Regions from separate parts of the Homo sapiens genome. Here region 2 is linked to region 1. Evidence: fine-mapped expression QTL. A gene starts in region 1. The other region holds a variant in brackets. All regions are shown on one strand. Distances are from middle to middle.

Region 1 (4,519 bases):
AGTGATATACATGCTTTCTAATACTCCAACTGTATTTTTCCTCAACCTATAATTTTACCACAAGAATTAATTATTTTCTTTTATTCACCACCTAGGACCGAGGTTCTTCATTCCGAGCCTCACAAAAGTCCTCAAAAAAAAAAAAAAAAACCCTCCTAAAACAAATCCTACCACGAGAAAATTGTTTTGATTTTTAAAATTAGTTCACTGTTACAGAATTCAACTAAAGCTAAAGAGAAACAACTCCTTTCAGAGAAGCACGTGGCAGGAAGGGGTAATTTCAACTTTCAACATATAAATGCAGCTTTAAAGATTCAGACCTTAGGTCCAACACCTGCTTGCTATTGATCATGCACGTTCTTATCTCCAAACTGCTTGCTCTTTTTTTTCATCCGCAACAAACTGGTAAAGCGAATGCAAAAATCAAGACAATCCTGTGAAACTCACAGTGCCCTAGAAACAACTATTAACCGCCAGTGAAACTCTGACCATGCTTCACGCACATGTGGTGGAAAAAAAAAACTGCGAACTCTAAAGAGCTCTGCTGCGACTAACGCTGTGACAGCCTCTGCACTCACTTCACCCACGAGGCCCAGACCCCACCACGTGAAAGATTCAGTTTGGGGAGTCGAGAGAGAGGATCGTGACTCGAGGACGTTCCTCGGGATGTCCTGCAATCACCAGTCTTCATTCATAATTCCCGCTCCTGGTTAATCGAGTGTGGCCAAACTCCTCCATTTCCCAACGGCTCAACTCACCCCAGCAAGTTATGAGAAAGTCCTAACAGTTGAGAGGTGGAAGAGAAACAAATAAAGGACATGCGGCACCCCAACCTGCAGCTTACTCCACACGTCTGATGGCCTGGAACGACCCCCTGCTTTTCAGCGGGGATACTCCGCGCCGTCGTGGGACAAGACGGCAGGACAGGAGCCTGAAACAACAGCACCTCAAAGGAGCAGCTCTGCGCAGTAAGCAGCGATGGACCCCCAAGCTCCTCCGTAACTACGGAAAGCTTCGGTGAGGGGCCGGCTTCCCCGCACCTCAGTCCATGCGCTCACCCGCCAAGGAATCCGGCGGGAAGGCAACAGCCTCCCAGGACCTCGAGCGCGCTCGAGGAGCAGCTCATCTCCGACCACGCTCCTCTGCTCACAACCTGAGGCGGGAAGGGGATGGCTCCGAGAACCTCGCCGGCGGTGGCTTGAACTTGGGGCTACCACGCTCCTGGCACCTTCGCAGGACCGGACTTTTGTCGCGTGAAGAAACGTGAGGATATAGGCGGCAAAGTCTCCCGCGGACCCTCGGAGCTCCAGAAACAAGTGGCAGCCGGCAGCCCCCTCGCTCCTTCCCTCCATCCCAGTCTCCCCCACATTCTGCCCCTGCTTTACCTTCTTTCTTAAGCGCCACGGGCGGCTGCGTCTCCTCTTTCTTGTCAACCACGCCAACGCTGGGGGGCAGCGGGTTCTTGCGGTCTTTCTGGGACTCCTTGCGCAGCTGTTTGCCTGCCGCGTTGGAGTTGGTCTGGGCCGCGGCCTGAGCTGCGCTCTTGGCCCCAGGGCCCCCAACGCCGCCCCCGCCGGCTTCTTTTTTCTTGTTCTCTGCTGCCTTCAGCACCTCGAAGGGGTCCGATTCGTCGTCAAATAACTGGTCGAATCGGTTGGTGACCACGCAGCCGAAGCCTTCCTGTAAGTGCCCAGGCATGATGGTGGCTCGGCGGCGCGTTCCTCCACGGATTGCAGCGGGCCGCGCCGAGCCAAGAGCGCCTGCTTCAGCTCTTCCCACAAGATGGCCGGGCCGAGAGAGGGGGGCCGTCTTCTCTTCCGGCGCCAGGCACACATCCGGGAGCGGCCTGCGCCGCAAGGCACTGTGGGGTATGTAGGCCAGAGTCATTTCTCCTGAGGCGACTCTCCGCGTCGGGACTACAATTCCCAGGACGCACCGCGCGACAACTCTTCGCGCGCGCCTGAGAGGCGAGACCCCATGAGGGGAGTGAAGCGTGCGGGCTGAAGGAAGGGAAGCGTGGTGGTGGGCGGAGTCCTGCCACCTGCTCTGGCCACCCTTAAACTCTCTAGGTCTTCAGCTACCTTGAAACCAAAAAACCGTGACGGCGTAACTGACTCGCGAAAGTGCTCTTTGGTTTCACTCACGCCCCCTCGGGCTCAGGGCTAACTTTCCCCACCGCTCCAGGGGGGTCAAGGTGACTCCCAGACCTTACATCTGAGACGCACAAACTTCCGGGGGAGGGGGTGTTGCTGAGGCGCCGCGCCGGCCGCGGGTAGGCTGGACCCTGCCTGTGCCAAGTCCGAGCTGCTCAGTTGCTGGAGTGGCCCTCCGTCAGCCTCCACGGTGAATCGAGGCTCTTCTGTCTAATGTGAGGGGGAATACGTTTCCTCTCGCGGGGACATGAACTAGGGTAGCAGAACTAACCAAAAAGACAAGTGAAACTATCACATGGGAGCGTGGCGCGTCTTTCCCGGGCTTCTCACCGTGTGGCGGCGGGTGTCGTAGGAGTGGTTAACTCCTGACGGTGCAGCGCTAGACGCGGGGCAAGCCTCCAGGAAGCACTGTTTATAGAAACCCTGTTACAATTATTCCAATTAATCGTCCGTTCGTGTCCGGCAAGTCAGGGCTTAGGTGGCTGTGTTGTTAGTCACATGCGCTCAATACATATCATTTGAGAACATTTCGAGTGCATGTGTGCTAGGAGTTGCGGTGAGGGGAGGGAAATATTGAAGTCAACACTTAATAATGACAAAGCATTGATACTAGTTGAGAATATTAAAATTCATTAAAAGAATACAATTTGAATGCGTATTTAAGCACATTTGGTAGCACCGGGTTTAAGTATATCATAATTTTTAAGTCCTTTTCCATTAACACAAAGTAGCAAATGCATCGCTTATTTGGTAGGAGCTATGAATAACCTTGAACTCAACATTTTGTTAGGCAAATAGTTTGCCTCTTTTCACAAATGTTGAAACCACTTCAGAGATGAAATGATTTACCAAATTCACACCTCTGTAAGTGCTAGTGACAGGCATTAGCCCAGTATTCTATCTCCACTAGGAGACTGGACATCAGCTCTTTAATTCAGACTGCCCTGATAGAAAGCAGTCCAATTTTTAAATTTCCGATATAATTTAAACATTGTTGCGTGTCAGGATATGTAACATGGCGGAATGTAATCATCAATTTCCGAGCAGATTTTAAATCAATTCCTTAGCAGGGAAAATAGAAGACACGAGTCATATTACATACATGGGGCAGCAAGCCTCCTGGTTTTCTTGTTTCTCAATCCTCCCCTATTCCTCACTTATTTCCCTGCTGCCTCAGTCCTGCACCCTGCCCACAACGCCCAACCTCAAACACACCCCCTATCTCATCCCCCCTTCCACAGGCTCTGGTTCTGTGGCACCTACCAAGACAAGGAGCTTTTGACCATACTCTTCCCACCTTTTTGAAATAGCTCAAGTGCAATGTAGAAGATCTCCACATTTTGACAGATTTTCTCTCTTCACGGGCTGTTGCGTCTCTGAGACTGCCTGCATCTTTGAGACATCTGTGAAAGCTCCTCTTCTTAACTCTTTCTGGCCACGGCCACAGTAACAATATTCATACTAAAACGTGATGTTTTAGTGTGTGCTTGGTGCACTTTACATACGTGATCTCCTTTAAACCTTACATCAACTCTATAAGAAAGTTATTACTCCATACCTCCCCCCCGCAAAAAAAAAGTTATTGCTCCTGTTTTAAGATTAGGAAAATGAAAACAAAGAGCTTAAGTAAGTTAACTACTCCTGCCACAATCTGGGGGGTGGGGCAGGCCTGTTGTTATTCATTTTTCTCCTCCATTACAGATTTCTGGTTTGCTCAAACAGAGCTTCGTAACCACCAAGCATTATTACAATAAGAATATTTGAAAATAAGCTACACATAGAGGAATTTTCTGGCTATGAATTTATGAGGTTCATTTATGCTCTTCAGAGAATTTACCTATTAAGATTACATAAAAATGTTATGAATAAGCATTTGGAGAAAAGGGGAGAATCTTCTATATTTCCAAAAAGTTTTGAAGCCCATTTTTAAAGTATACAAATAAAGCTCAAGGTGGTCTTTTACATCTCTCAATCGTTATTTTATAACTAGTTATTTTCACTAATGTTTCCTTTATTCTACAAAATTGAAATATTAATTTCTTAATATTAAATATTAAAATGTCTAAAAGTTCTTGCTACTCTCAATAGGAGAACATCAGCCAAATAAACCTCAAGGGAAGAGAAATTTCCTAGACACTATTATTCAAATTAAAGAAATGATTTATGAAAGCAACAAGTGTCAGACGATATCACTAGACATGTGGCCTAAAATGTCATCTCTCTGTAGCAATATTTGAATCACATCTTCTTCTCTGAAAAATACTCATGAAACTTCACAGTCTTATCTACAAGGATTTTCTAGCAATAAATGCTGAAAACCATGATTAAATATCTGATAGAGTTGCCTAATGTTAACAAAATGGAGA
Region 2 (4,000 bases), 48 kb before region 1:
TATGCAACAGTCATTCTGTTAAGCGCTTTGTATACTACATTAATTTGCTGGGGCTGCTGTAACGAAGCACCACAAACTGAGTGGCCTAATCAACAGAAATCTATTGTCTCACAGTTCTAGAGGCTAGAAGTCCAAAATCAAGGTGTCAGCAGGGTTGGTTCTTTCGGAGGGCTATGAGAGAGAATCTATTCCAGGCCTCTCTCCTCTTTTCCAGTAATTTGCAGGCAGTCATTGATATTACTTGGCTTGTAGGTCTCTGCTTTCATCTGGCATTCTCCATGTGTCCAAATTGTCTCCTTCTTATAAGGACACCAGTCATATTGGATTAGGGGCCCACTCTACTCCAGTATAACTTCATCTTAATTATATATGCAATGATCCTAATTTCAAATGAGGTCACATTCTGAGGCTGGGGGTTTAGGACTTCAACATACAAATTTGAGGATCACCCAGTTCAACCTACAACACATACTTTTGCTAATATTTCCTTACCAAAATTACATGGTTATACCTACCCCATCCTACCAGACACTCAATATGAAATGAATTTAAAAATGAAGGATTATCATGCCTTTTTTAAAGTGAGGGGACTAAGGTACAGAAAGATTACCCAAGGTCATGGAAGTGGTAAGTGGCAGAACTACAAATCAAACTCAGATTTGAGTTGCTTAAATTAAATTTGAGTCTGATGAATAAGTGACCCAGCTAGCATGGGCTTCCCTCCACCAGCTAAGTTACACTGTTCTCTCTAGCAATGCTCATTTGCATCTGCTCTAAGCATAAAACAAGCTGTTCTTGCTTTGTGACATGAAGCATCAAGTTGATCATTCAAGAGACTTTGTTGTTCTATGCCAGGAAACTCTCCACTGGGAAATTGACAAGACTTCTTCTTATCTCCCCAGCACTCCCATGAAAGTTAACTTGCAGCTGGGCACGGTAGCTCGTGCCTGTAATCCCAGGACTTTGGGAGGCCGAGGAGGGCGGATCATGAGGTCAGGAGATCGAGACCATCCTGGCTAACACAGTGAAACCCCGTCTCTACTAAAAAAATACAAAAAAATTAGCCGGGCATGGTGGCGGGCGCCTGTAGTCCTGGCTACTCGGGAGGCTGAGGCAGGAGAATGGCATAAACCCAGGAGGCGGAGCTTGCAGTGAGCCGAGATGGCACCACTGCCCTCCAGCCTGGGCGACAGAGTGAGACTATGTTTCAAAAAAAAAAAAAAAAAAAAGAAAGAAAGTTAACTTGCTCGATTAATGTGGATTAAGGACTCAGACAAAAATTAGGTGGGAGCGGTGGTACATGCCTGTAATCCCAGCTACTTGGGAGGCTGAGGCAAGAGAATCACTTGAACCCAGGAGGCAGAGGTTGCAGGGAGCTGAGATCGCACCACTGCACTCCAGCCTGGGTGACAGAGCGAGACTCTGTCTCAAAAATAAAAAAAAATAAAAACAAAAAAGGACTCAGCATCTTGCTACTGGTTTTACTCCAAACTTGTTCCATCTGCCCAGAAAGGAAAGCAGATGCTGAAGAAACGTGAGATTTGGCCAAGTGCCGTGGCTCCCACCTATAATCTCAGCACTTTGGGAGGCCAAGGTGGGAGGATTGATTGAACACAGGAGTTCCACACCTGCCTGGGCAACATAGCAAGACCCCATCTCAATTAAAAAAGAAAGGAAGGCCAGATCCTCCTGATTGTATGGGGTAGAAAAAAGGTTACCTCCATTAACTTCCCTATTCAGCCCTGTTGACACTTCTCATGGGTCCTAACAGGTCTCTGGCCTCTAGCTCCTCCTGCTCACTCTCCCTCCCAGCCTGTTTTTCATTCAATCAGAAGAGGAGTCTTTCTGCAAGACTGCAGATGCTGGCATTACTTCTCTTGTTGTAACTCATCAGTGGTTCCCCAGGGGCCTTCAAGCTAGAACT[CA/C]AAACTCCATACTTGCCAGGTACACATGGTCCTGTTTACCCATCTAGTTTGATCCTTTGCCACACACTTCAGCATTCATTATGGAGCAAGACCAGACTTTCTGCAGTCGCCTGAAAGTACTGGCTGTTCCCTCCTTCCATGCCTTTGCATAGTTTTTTTTTTCTGGTCTGGTCTTCCTTTGTTAGCTTATCCATTTAGCTGGCTCCTATTCATCCTCCAACTCTACATTTTTTTTTTTTTTTGAGACAGGGTCTCACTCTATTGTCCAGGCTGGAGTATAGTGGCATGATCATAGCTCACTGCAGCCTCAAAATCCTGGGCCCAAGTGATTCTCATGCCTCAGCCTCACAAGTAGTTGAGACTATAGGCTCCTGCCACCATGCCCAGCTAATCAACTCTAAACTTTTGACATTGTGCCTTTTGCAAAACCTTCCTCTGCTACTTGTGAGCCAGTTTTCCATGCTGTTCTCTGCTACACTGCTGTGGACATTGCATATACCCCTGTTTTCATACATATCCCATGTGAATTAGTCTGTTCTCACGCTGCTATAAGGACATACCTGAGACTGGATAATTTATAAAGGGAAGAGGTTTAATTGATTCACAGTTCCACAGGGCTGGGGAAGCCTAAGGAAACTTATAATCGTGGCAGAAGGGAAAGCAAACATGTCCTTCACAAGGTGCCAGGAGAGAGAAGAATGAGAGCCAAGTGGGGGAAAGGCCCCTTAGAAAACCATCAATTCTTGTGAGAACTCACTCACTATCATGAGAACAGCATGAAGATAACTGCCCCCATGATTGAATTACCTCCCCGCAAGTCCCTCACACCACATGTGGGGATCATGGGAACTACAATTCAAGATAAGATTTGGGTGAGGACACAGCCAAACCATATCATCCCACTCCTGACCCCTCCCAAACCTCATGTCCTCACATTTCAAAACACAATCATGCATTTTGAACAGTCCCCTGAAGTCTTAGGCCATTCCAGTAATAGCCCAAAAGTCCAAGTCCAAAGTCTCATCTGAGACAAAGCAAGTCTTTTCCACCTATGAGCCTATAAAATCAAAAACAAGCTAGTTACTTCCTAGATATAAAGGGGGTACAGGCATTGGGAAAATACACCCCTTCCAAATGGGAGAAATTGGCCAAAACAAAGGAGCTATAGGCCCCATGCAAGTCCAAAATCCAGTAGGGCAATCATTAAATCTTAAAGCTCCAAAATGATCTCCTGCCTAGATCCACTTAAGCCTAGTGTTCCATTATTGGAATGCTAAGCATGTGGGAGTTGTTTATATCCTACTGCTCAAGGTCATTGCCAAGGTCAGATTTTTCACTCATGCAAAAATTCAAAAAATTGCAACCTCAGGCATAAATAGGTTAACTCCATGTCTCACATTAGGTCATGCTGATGCAAGAGGTGGGCTCCCACAGCCTTGGGCAGCTCCACCTCTGTGGCTTTGCAGGGTACAGCCCCCTCCCAACTGCCTTCACAGCTGGCATTGAGTGTCTGCAGCTTTTCCAGGTGCATGGTGCAAGCTGTCAGTGGATCTACCATTCTAGGGTCTGGAGGACAGTGGCCCTCTTTTCACAGTTCCACTAGGCAGTGCCCAGTGGGGACCCTGTGTAGGGGCTTGCACCCCACATTTCTCTTCCACACTGCTCTAGCAGAGGTTCTCCATAAGGGCTCCGCCCCTGCAGCAAACTTCTGCCTGGGCATCCAGGCACTTCCATACATCCTGTGAAATCTAGGCAAAGTTCTCCAAACCTGAACTCTTGACCTCTGCACACCCACAGGCCCAAAACCACATGGAAGCTGCCAAGGCCTGGGGCTTGCACCCTATGAAGCAACGGCCTGAGCTGTATGTTGGTCCCTTTTAGCCACAGCTGGAGTGGCTAGGATGCAGAGCACCAAGTCCCAAGGCTGCATACAGAAGTGGGGGCCCTGGACCCAGCCCTGAAAACCATTTTTCCCTCCTAGGCCTCCAGGCCTGTGATGGGAGGGGCTGTCATGAAGGTTCCTAACATGCTCAGGAGATATTTTCCCCATTGTCTTGGTAATTAACATTTGGCTC

Alleles and levels. Positions count from the first base shown, and alleles are read on the strand shown. Sizes are in standard deviations (SD) of each study's normalised expression.
As copies of CA replace C in region 2, the expression in sun-exposed skin of the gene that starts at base 1,800 in region 1 goes up (small effect, 0.24 SD a copy in GTEx).

Evidence for each region. PIP is the estimated chance that this variant, and not a neighbour inherited with it, causes the effect.
Region 2: its variant is the best candidate, but not a certain one, in a credible set for the expression of SERBP1 in sun-exposed skin (GTEx, PIP 0.66).

The regions. Positions count from the first base shown.
Region 1 is chr1:67,428,603-67,433,121 of GRCh38, forward strand. SERBP1 (SERPINE1 mRNA binding protein 1) reads right to left here and starts at 1,800. Exons shown (of 8, transcript NM_001018069.2): 1 at 1,386-1,800. The coding sequence starts at 1,698. RefSeq lists enhancers at 337-973, 1,609-2,244, 1,682-1,951, 2,162-2,241, 2,272-2,451.
Region 2 is chr1:67,380,557-67,384,556 of GRCh38, forward strand. All of the region lies in intron 14 of IL12RB2 (interleukin 12 receptor subunit beta 2), which reads left to right. Among named protein-coding and RNA genes, the nearest start is that of SERBP1, 48 kb to the right of the region's middle. The variant CA/C (reference allele first, on the strand shown) is at 1,925.